2 separate regions of the Homo sapiens genome follow, and region 2 is linked to region 1. Evidence: fine-mapped expression QTL. A gene starts in region 1. The other region holds a variant in brackets. All regions are shown on one strand. Distances are from middle to middle.

Region 1 (5,372 bases):
GATCCTGCAGCTGCCCTGTGTGGGCCCTTGCTGCCTTCCGCATTGGAAAAGACCTTCTTACAGATGGGGTCTCATGACGCCACCCAGGCTGGAGTGCCGTGTCTATTTCCAGGCGCTGTCACAGGGCTGCAGCCTTGAACTCCTGGCTTCAAGCGATCCTCCTGTCTCAGCCTCCTGAGTAGCCTCCTGGGCTCAAGCGATCCTCGTGTCTCAGCCTCCTGAGTAGCCTCCTGGGCTCAAGCGATCCTCGTGTCTCAGCCTCCTGAGTAGCTGGGACTTCAAGCGCACCTGGCCAAGTCCCTTTTTATTCTCCACTACTCAAGACTTCTCCTTCCTCAAGGCCCAGCTCAATCTCACCTCCACCTAAAACCTCCGGGGCATTCCTGTAGTATTTGGAGGCTGAACTGCTCAGGAGGGAAGGGTGTTAATGAGCTGGTGTCTCGCCCTCATCCTGACTCCCGGTGAGAATGTAAGTTCTCTGCAGGCAAGGACTATATCTCATTACCATTTCTGTACCCACTCAGACTTGGCCATGTGTGCCCAGCACATAAAGTGTCTTCGATGACTGTCTATAGACCCACGGTACTTGAGATTGCCCCAACACATCCTTCTAAAATCTTTCTCCTTTTCAGAGGCTCACGAATGTTCAAACCAGGTCTACCGGGAACAACATTATGGTCATTCCGTTTATTCTGAAGCCCACATACAGGTCTGGAAGCAATAATCCCGCACAGTCTAGATGAAAAAATAAAGACCTTCCTGTTGTCCTTGGATTGTCAGAGCCTTGGGGGATTTTTAACATCTTTTGCTGCTTTCCTTAATTTCATGGTGTCGATGGCTTGTTGGGGGGTCAGCCTGACTCCTGCGAGTGCCCGTACCCGGAAAAGGGCTGGTGCCAAGACAGCTCCAGGACACTCAGAATGAGGGCAAGAGGCCACCCCCACCATCAGCCCCCTCCAGTCCCACTCCATACAACTGCAACACAGTGACCCAGCACACCTTGGGCCACTGCCAAGCAGGGAGCAAACCAGAAATGGTCTGAGCCCTCCCTTCCCCCATCCTCAGAGGGGCCTGCCCCTTTAGGTAAACACAAGGAGGCACCGAGGCTGCTGTACAAGAGTTGGTTCCTGCTCACTCCACAAACTCTACTTCCACCTACTGCAAAAGGTTCTGTCCTTTTTTTTAAAAAAAAAAAAAAAAAAGAAACCCAGTGAGGGGTGGGGTAGGTGTGTGTGGAGGAGAGGAGAAAAGGACAAGTGATGGTCTCCCCACCTCCCAGTAAGCCGCAGGTGCAGAGACTCCAAGCCTGCCTCAGGGCCCTTCCGGCATCTGTGCAGGAGGGTCTCCGCAGAAAAAACCCAGGACCCACGACCTGGGAGGACCCCGGTCACCCCCACTGTCTGGACCCACCAGTGGGAGGTAAAGTGTAAGAAACCAAGGGCAAAGGGCCCTCCCTGGGCGGGCTAGAGATCCCCTGGAAAGGGCCATGCACCGCGCGATCCCCACAACAATCTCAAGTATTTGGAGCATGTTGGGGAGGAAGCCCCGGTGCCAAAACCAAGCATGTGCCACCTGGAAGCCCGCTCCCGCCCACCAGCACACCAACCCACCCACGCTCCTGACAGAGCTGTGCTCCGGGTGCGTAGAGGGCCATCTTGTTCGCAACAACCGGGTGAAAGTTGAAATTCTAAGCTACTGACCCAGAAGGGTATTTTCGGGGAAGTTCTGAGTAATCCTCTTTGAGACAAGGTACTTTATCACTCATTTTGGTTCCTAAATATGGAAAGCCAGAGGAAACCGACAATGGCCCAAAGGCAGGGGGATGGCCCCGATGACTCCTTCACCTCCAACTAAGGCCCATGATTCTGTTCTCCTATCAATAAAAATTAATTCATGGATCCTTGGCAGGTACCTTTCTATCTGAATGAATTAAAGGAGGGACATTAAACAAACGGTTTCTAGATTTAGAAGAGGAGACGCTATTTATAATTTGAGGACTGAGGAGGACAAAGGATCCTGCCTGCCTGGATCCTTTGGAGAAAACCACAAAGGAAAAAAAAAAGGAAGGAAAAGACAAATAATGAAGATCTGGATTTCTCTTAACCTGCCCTTGTGGCCTCGGTGTGCCCATCTGTGAAATGGAACTTCAGAGTGCCAGAGCGGGAGCCTCTTATGAAATGAAAGCTCCTGAACCGGCTCATGGTGAGGCCCAAGTCAGGCCCCCTTCGCCTACTTAAGGCGGGCCCTGCTAGGGTGGAGTGAGGATGTCAGCCGCGGGCGGCGTCCTGAGCGCAAAACGTGAACCCGAGTCGCCAAGTTTGGGCGCTGCTGGACGGTCCCATCTGGAGGCCGTCCCGTGCCCCACTAAGTAGAGGAGAAACCGAAGAGAATCCGAAGAAAGGATGCTGCGGCCTGGACCACCAGCCCTAGAGGCTGAACCCAAGGACACCCCTCCACCTAGCCCCGACCCCATTCACCCACACAGACGCACAGGGACCCAAAGCACCCGGCCGACCTGGAAAGTCAGCGATTCCTGCGAGGGTGCAAGGGGCGAGGAAGAGGGAGCGTCCCCCAGGGCAGCCCCTCCGACACTCGAGCAAGGGCTGGAGACAGCGCAGGGGACGGTCGGCTCAGGTCGAAAGCGGCCCGACAGCGGCCCTGTCCTGGGAGGAACTCGACCTGCAGTGTGCCCGCCGCGGGGACTCGCTCAGCTCCGGGGGCGCCTCGCCACTCCCGGCCGCAGGCACTCAGGTGAGCAGCGCTGGTCCCGGGACACCGACCCCTCCCCACCCCGGGCGCGAAGCCCACCTGAGTAAGACTTCTTCATGGTGCCTCCGTGGCCGCCGCTCCCAGGAAAGTGTGGCGGCGAGGCAGCGGGGCGCGCGCTCCCAGGGCGCTAATCCTGGGCCGGTAGTAGGAAGGCGGGAAGAGGGGGCGGCCCGCCGTCTGGAGTGCACCGACCGGGCCCCGCCCCGGCCCCGCCCCCGCCCCGCCCCTCCCCGGAGATGCGCATAGAACCCCGGCCCAGCCGGCTGTGGTCCCGCCCCTGACCCGCCCCCTCCCCGCCCCGTGAACGTGCGCGCCGAGCCCCACCCCCGCCCACCCCTGCGCTGCGCTGCACCTGGCGGAGCGGGGCTGGCGGGCGCCGGGCCTGGGAGGGGGCGCCCCCGCGCGGCAGCGCAGACCAGACCAGACCAGGCCAGGCCGGGGGTGGGGGCCGCCTGCGTGGCCCGCCGCGCCCGCAGCTCTGCACCCCCAGCTCCCCGCGCTGGCGCCAATGGCTGGTTCCGGGAGTCGCCGCACTTCCCAGTCCCGAGTCCGGGCGGGGCGGGCCCGGCCAGGTGGAAGCGGGCGGAGGTGCGGGCGCTCCGGGCGGCCCCGCCGGGCGAGGCGGCGGCGCCGGGCACCGCGGCGGCGCCGGGCACAGCCGGGGGTCGGAGCCGGGGTGCCGGCTTAGTGGGCCGGGGTAGGGCGGGACAGGACACCTGTCCTGCTACTTTTCTGGTAATCAAAAGGGCAGAGTGCGTCGATTGAGTTGGAGCCTTAGTTTCCTCACCTGTAAATGGGCGCGTTGGACAGATGATCATTTGTTCTCCCTGCGCTGGGCACCGTGCGCAGCTCGGTGTATCGGTGCAGCGGGGCAGACACAGGGAGCCGCCCTTTACAACTCGGGTAACGCAGGCAGTGGTGAGAGGATGCAAAACTTGCACGGAAGAATTCTCTCTACTTGGATATCCTTAAAGTCTCCACGATAAAGCGGTGTTTCCAACGTACAGAGGAAGAAGTGACTAATTATGACTGGAGGGTGGTGTCAGAGTTTTATTGAGGCGAAATCAAAACAGGGTTTTAAGGAATGAGCAGGAATTAGCCAGGCAGCCAAGGTGATGGAAGGCAGCTGTTCCCGAAAGAGGGAAGGGCGTGGCGGAGCCTGGGAGGCCTGAGGTATCACAGCGAGTGTGGAGAGACAGAGGCAGGGCCGGGCCCTTGCACAGCTGCCAATGGAGGCCGTAGAGGACGAGAGGAAGGCGGGAGGCCAGTTGGGAAGCGCTCGCTAGTTCTGGGTAGGGGCGCAGCATTGCCTTCTCCTGCAGCCCTCCCAAAAATGCACAGGAGGCTGAAAGTGTCACTAACAGCCCCGAAAAATCCTCCTCCTCTTCCCCTCTCCTTTACTCTCCTTGGGGGTCCAAGAAGCATTTTCATTTCCTGCCTGAGTGTGGGAAACTTATATGCATGAGAACGGAGGCCTATGTGGCACCGTGGGTTCGTTCCGGCCCACCTGCTTCCTTTCTTGAGTAATCTGTCCAGCCACAGCCCTGCAGAGGGAGCAGCCCAGCCAGAGGAGTTTCCCCTCACCCCAGGTAGAGCTGATTGGACCGGAGTGGACACTGGACTTCAACTGAGTCCACCCCTTTCCTTATCTGGGGGTTAGAGGCTCAGGAGGCCTCGGGAGGGAAGTGCTGTAAGGGAGGGGAGCAGGGAGTATGGACGAATTGTGAACAGCGTCCTGGATTCTGGGATGTCCACACCCTAACCGCAACCCCCACCCACACGCCCACTCACCGCTTGTACCAGCACCAGCAGATTCCGGCTTAGGCCGTGTCCTGACTTGGCCAGCAAGCACCATGATGACACTGCCCCCAGCCTAGCCATGATGACACTGCCACGAGCCTAATGCCTGGGATTCCCAAAGTCCAGCGGTGTCTCAAGAATCTGGGTTATGGGTGCATTGCTGGCTTTGTCCATTTTACTCAGCACAAGTCAGAGGTGCCCTGGAGCACAGTCACCCTGAGGATGCCAGCCCTGGCTGTTCCCTGGCTTTGGGTAGGTGGGTTCCTCTGCGGATGCTCACGCTTCTGCCTGGGGTCACAATTCACAGGAACCTGGGCACCCAGGACCCAAGGACACCTGCGTGGAGTGATGTTGGACACATCACATGGGTGCCTCCTGTGTGATGGTTCCTGGATATCCGAATTTTCCTTCCGATTCCAAGAAATCAGAAAGAAGGACAAGAGAGAGGGAGGGAAGGCTGGGAATGAGGGTTCTACACATTTTTGAGATGCATGAAGCTTAATCTGTCATGAAATTAGAGTTAAAAAAAAAAAAGAAAAATTAAAGAGATGCACGAAGCTTAATTGTTTAAGCCTCAAATTTTGTTTTTATTTATTTATTTTTATTTTTTATTTTTTGAGAGGGAGTTTTGCCCTCGTCGCCGAGGCTGGAGTGCAATGGTGCGATCTCAGCTCACTGCAACCTCTGCCTCCCAGGTTCAAGTGATTCTCCAGCCTCAGCCTCTTGAGTAGCTGAGATTACAGGTGCCCGCCACACCTGGCTAATTTTTTTTTTTTTGTAATTTTTTTCTTTTTTAGTAGAGA
Region 2 (5,372 bases), 68 kb before region 1:
TTCAGACACCTCGGTCTGGGATTTCTGGCTCCAGAAACTTTAGGGAAGACATTTCGGATGTTTTTGTTTTTGTTTTTGTTTTTGTTTTTGAGACGGAGTCTTGCTCTGTCACCCAGGCTGGAGTGCAATGGCGCGATCTCGGCTCACTGCAACCTCCACCTCCAAGGTTCATGCCATTCTCCTGCCTCAGCCTCCTGAGCAGCTGGGACTACAGGCACCCACCACCACGCCCGGCTAATTTTTTTTTTTTTTTTGTATTTTTAGTAGAGACGGGGTTTCACCATGTTAGCCAGGATGGTCTCGATCTCCTGACCTCGTGATCCAACCGCCTCGGCCTCCCAAAGTGCTGGGATTACAGGCATGAGCCACCGCACGTGGCCGATTTCGGATGTTTTGAGTCACCTCATTTGTGGTCCTTTGTTATGACAGCCGCAGGACAGTAACACAGGGCCTCAGCAGGGTGGCCCGGCAAGGGCCCCTCCCCCACGGCAGCCCTTATTTTGTCTCATCTGCAGGGTCACCCAGATGCTCACCCCGGCTCTGGTCAGCAAGTGTCAGTGCATTTTCCCACGTCCAGCAGTAAGGGCAGCACCGCTGCTGACCAAGCACCTGCCATGTCGGGGCCCCTGTGTGGTCCTGGGGCTCCTCTCTCCTGTTCACACTTGGCAGCTCAGTTCCCTTCTCTGCACCTCATCTGATGCCGGGGCTCTGGGCAAGCCTGGGGGACCTGTGCTTTATTTCACAGATTTCCCAGCTGACTTCATCAGCCCCTGCACAGGGCCCGCCTGAAGGGCCGCTGGGCTGGGCGCCAACCAGAGTCCTCAGCAGCAGCCTTCTCGGCTCTCTGACCTTGGCCCATGTCTCAGGGGCAGGGCCTCCAAGGGCCCTGGGGCCGCCTCTGAGGTCAGCCTTCCTGCTGACCGCAGCTCACACAGAGGAGGGCCTAACCTTGAGTGTGGCCGCCCGTGACCTTGAGAGATGCCCAGAGCTGCAGACGTGTCTCCCAAGCCCTCCAGAGCCCGGGACAGGAGCCACTCAATGTCCCCAGTGCCATAGGCAAAATTTGCTCTTCTCAACATAAACTGTCCCCAGCCCCACTTAATGTTCCCTTCAACGAGCAGCAACAAAAACATGGTTTTCTGCCAAAGGTGGGGCCTACAGTTTCCCAGAACCCGGTTTCCTGCCAGGCCTAGGTACAATCCACAGGAGTGCTCGCCCCTGACTCGTGTGTGTGTGTGTGTGTGTGTGTGTGTGTGTGTGTGTGTGTTGTGTGCACGCGCACATGTGCCTGCGCAAGTCCCTCCATGTGCAGCCTTGGGAAGGGTGGAGAGGCTCACGGAAATTCTTTCTGGCACTTAGTAAGCCAGAAAAAAGGAAAATGAGATCTGTGTACACATGTGCAAGTGCATACACAGCACACAGGCACACACATATACACACTCAGCACACACCACACAGGTCCACACGTGCACACATGTGCAGGCACACACCACACAGGTCCACACGTGCACACACATGGGGGCACACAGCACACAGGCACACACAGGCACACACACCCCCCTGCAGGAAAGCCCTTCCTTGTCTTTCACTCTGCAGGGTCCTCAGGCTTCATGAAACAAGATTGAATTTTGGAAGTTTGATAAAAGGTCTGTCTGGAGCATTCTGGTCATCTCCACCAGCCCTTCTAGTTGTGGAAGGCATGCCTCGTGGCATCTACCCACCTCCTGTTCCCACCCTCACCCCCGCCCCCGTTTCCTCCTCTCTGCTCCTTTAGCCCACATGCTGCCTGCTCCAATCCCAACCTTTGCACTTGGACGGGAATTATTTCCTCTGTAGAAGGGTGTAATGCATGTGGGGACACACACACACACACACACACACACACTGCACTGGAGGAGAGAAGAGAGGCAGAGCTTCTTCCAGATCTAGAGCTCTAGCGAGTGACGGGATTTCTCCTAGAGAACACGTGCAGAAGTCTGCGTTACTGGAAGAAGACACTACCCTGACTCACACTCTCTCTCCTCTCTCTCGTCTCTCTCACAGAGAAGGAAAGGCCCCAGCAAACAGTGGTCATGTGGGCCTCCTGCATGCCACTGGTAGCCCCCCAGCTAGGACCACCTCTCCTTTATCCCTGGAAGCACAAGAACAGAGAGAAGGGTGAGTTTCTGCCTTTGGGGGCTCCTTTCTGCACCCCTCTGGAGCTAACCCCAGGGCTGTGGGCTGCACAGGAAGGAGGGCTCAACAGGCTTCCCGCCCAACCCTGCCCCTCTAGTGAGGAGCCGACCCACCCTGTCTGCAAAAGATGCTGGTTGGGACCTGATGCTGGGCAACTTGAGGAGAAGAGAAGGGGGACAGGGGCTGAGGCCAGGCCCCTGGCCCTGAAACAGCCATAACTCCTGGGGTAGAGTCCAAGGGTGCTAGGCTGGAGACCCCACATTCGGCCAGCTGGCAGTCACCACCCTGGTCTAGCCAGTGGTCTAGGGCACCATAGCCACCCAGACCAGGAATTCCACTTTTCTGGACTGTACTAATGAGGAAGGTTGAGCCTGTAGGTTTTACACACTCATGGCAACTTCAAGGCAGAGAGGCCACTGCCAACTGAGGGCCACGGGCAGGAGCTTTGTGAGCCCATCAGCAAGTCTGGAAGATCAAGGCTCCTGGTCACAGAGAGTAGCTGCTATCTGGTCAATTCTGCAGAAAACATTATAGCTCTGGACAAAATATTTGAAAGAACAAAATAACAACAGCCTGGAGTCAGTATAGAATATCTCAAGTAGGTAGAAGCTGGAGTAGAGTCTACACCTGACAGAGGGGAATAAAACTAGATAAGTTTCTGGTTTCTGGAGGCTTTTTTGCCCAGAGGTAGGTACTGAGCAATCAAACTTGGATAAAAAGTCTTAAAAGCATCCAGGGAAAAACAACATGTGGTCTACAGGGGAATAGCTAGATGAATGCTGATTCCTTGACAGAAACAACGGAGGCCAAAGACACTGGAACCCTATATTTTAAAGTCCTGAAAGAAAAAACTGACAACTCAGAATTCTATAACCAGTGAAATTATGGTTCAAGAATGACAGCAGGCTGGGCACAGTGGCTCACACCTATAATCCCAGCATTTTA[G/A]GAGGCCAAAGCAGGCAGATCACTTGAGGTCAGGAGTTCGAGACCAGCCTGGCCATCATGGTGAAATCCCATCTCTACTAAAAATACAAAAATTAGCTGGGTATGATGGCACATGCCTGTAGTCCCAGCTACTTGGGAGGCTGAGGCAGGAGAATCGTTTGAGCCCGGGAGGAGAAGGTTGGTGAGTTGAGATTGGGCAGGAGTTTTGAAATCACACCATTGCACTGTAGCCTGTGGGGAGACAGAGTGAGACTCTGTCTCAAAAATAAAAATAAAAATAAAAAAAGAAAGAATGACAGCAAAATAAAGATTTGCAGATAAGTGAAAATGAAAGGGAATTAGCTGTCTGCAAACCTGCACTACAAAAACCGTGAAGCAAGTTCTCCAAGATCATGGGAAATGAGACCAGATGGGAACTCAGCTCTTCAGGAAGGAATGAAGAGCACAGGATATAGCAAATACATGGGCAAATAGAAAAGATTCTGTTTTACTTTTAATTTCTTTAAAATGCATGGGGCTGTTTAAAGCAAAAATTTCCTTATTGTATTGTCTAGTTTACAATGTGTATGGATGTAGTAAATATCTAACAACCATCACATACAGGATGGAAAGTGGTAAATGAACCCATAGGATTGCCTAGTTCTTACACTTTTTTTCCATGAAGAAAAACAATGTTAATTCTAAGTAGACTGTGAAAAGCTAAGAATGTGCAATAGAATCTATAAAGTAACTACTAAAATAGCAATACAAAGAGATACAATTAAAAAGTCAAAACAGGCCGGGCTCAGTGGCTCACGCTTGTAATCCCAGCACTTTGGGAGGCCAGGGTGGGCGGATCGCCTGAGGTCAGGAGTTCGAGGCCAGCCTGGCCAGCATGGTGAAACCCCGTCTTTACTAAAAATACAAAAATTAGCCGGCCGTGGTGGCAGGCGTCTGTAATCCCAGTATACTAGGGAAGCTGAGGCAGGAGAATCACTTGAACCCAGGAGGCAGAGGTTGCAGTGAGCCAAGATCATGCTATTGCACTCCAGCCTGGGCAACAGAGTGAGACTCTGTCTTAAAAAAAAAAAAAAAAAAAAAACATAAATTAAAATAGAATTCTAAAAAATACTTAATTAACATAAAAGAAGCCAAGAAAGCAAGATGAAAGAAATAAATATCAAAGAGCAAGGTAGTAGCTCTAAACCCAGTCATATCTATAACTATGTTAAACAGAAATAGCCTGAATATTCCAATTAAAAGGCGGAGGCTGTCAGAATGAATAAAATAGCAAGACTCAACTATATACTATCTACAAAAGATGCTGTTTCAGTATAAACACAGGTTGAAATTTTCTGTTTGGAAAAAGACATACTGATGCTGCTTGAATGATGATGGAGTTATGTCTTGACAAACCCATCATAAGTGGAAAATAAATATCATCTCAAAAATGCACTTAATACATCTAACTTACCGAACATTCTAGCTTAGCCTAGCCTACCTTAACATGATTAGAACACTTACTTCAGCCTACAGTTGAGCAAAATCAACAAACACAAAGCCTATTTTATAATAAAGTGTTGACTATCTCATGTAAGTTATTGAATACTGTACTGAAAGTGAGAAACACAATGGTTTCACACATACTTAAAGTACAGTTTCTACTGTATACATACCACGTTCGCACCATGGTAAAGTTGAAAAACTGTAAGTCAAACCATCATAAGTTTCTCCATAAGCCTCTCCAGCCTTCTTATGCATCCCAAACAGCATGTTTAAGAAGGCTGGAGAGGCTACATAAATATCAATAAAGTTGAGTCCAAGATAAAATTATTACGAGATAAAGGAATACATTCATCATGGTTAAATGATCAGTTCATCGAGACACCATTATAATCATAAATGTGTATGCACCTAACCAAAGGAGCTTCAAAATACATGATATAAAACCTGAAAGAATTAAAGGGAGAAATGGGCAATTCCACAATCATAGGTGGAGACTCTTTTTTTTTTTTTTTGAGACGGAGTTTCACTCTTGTTGCCCAGGCTGGAGTACAATGGTGCAATCTCGGCTCACTGCAACCTCCACCTCCTGGGTTCAAGCGATTCTCCTGCCTCAGCCTCCCGAGTAGCTGGGATTACAGGAGCCTGCCACCACGCCCAGCTAATTTTTGTATTTTTAGTAGAGACAAGGTTTCACCATGTTGTCCAGGCTGGTCTCAAACTCCTGACCTCAGGTGATCCACCCGCCTTGGCCTCCTGAAGTGCTGGGA

The links.
Region 2: its variant is fine-mapped to the expression of SEPTIN9 in whole blood (INTERVAL, PIP above 0.99).

Annotation. Positions count from the first base shown.
Region 1 is chr17:77,278,991-77,284,362 of GRCh38, reverse strand. It overlaps SEPTIN9 (septin 9), which reads right to left and starts at 2,864. Exons shown (of 12, transcript NM_001113491.2): 1 at 2,809-2,864. The coding sequence starts at 2,827. It overlaps SEPTIN9-DT (SEPTIN9 divergent transcript), which reads left to right and starts at 2,466. Exons shown (of 3, transcript NR_136503.1): 1 at 2,466-2,751. RefSeq lists a silencer at 2,370-2,533 and an enhancer at 4,135-4,782.
Region 2 is chr17:77,347,124-77,352,495 of GRCh38, reverse strand. All of the region lies in intron 2 of SEPTIN9 (septin 9), which reads right to left. Among named protein-coding and RNA genes, the nearest start is that of MIR4316, 47 kb to the left of the region's middle. The variant G/A (reference allele first, on the strand shown) is at 3,121.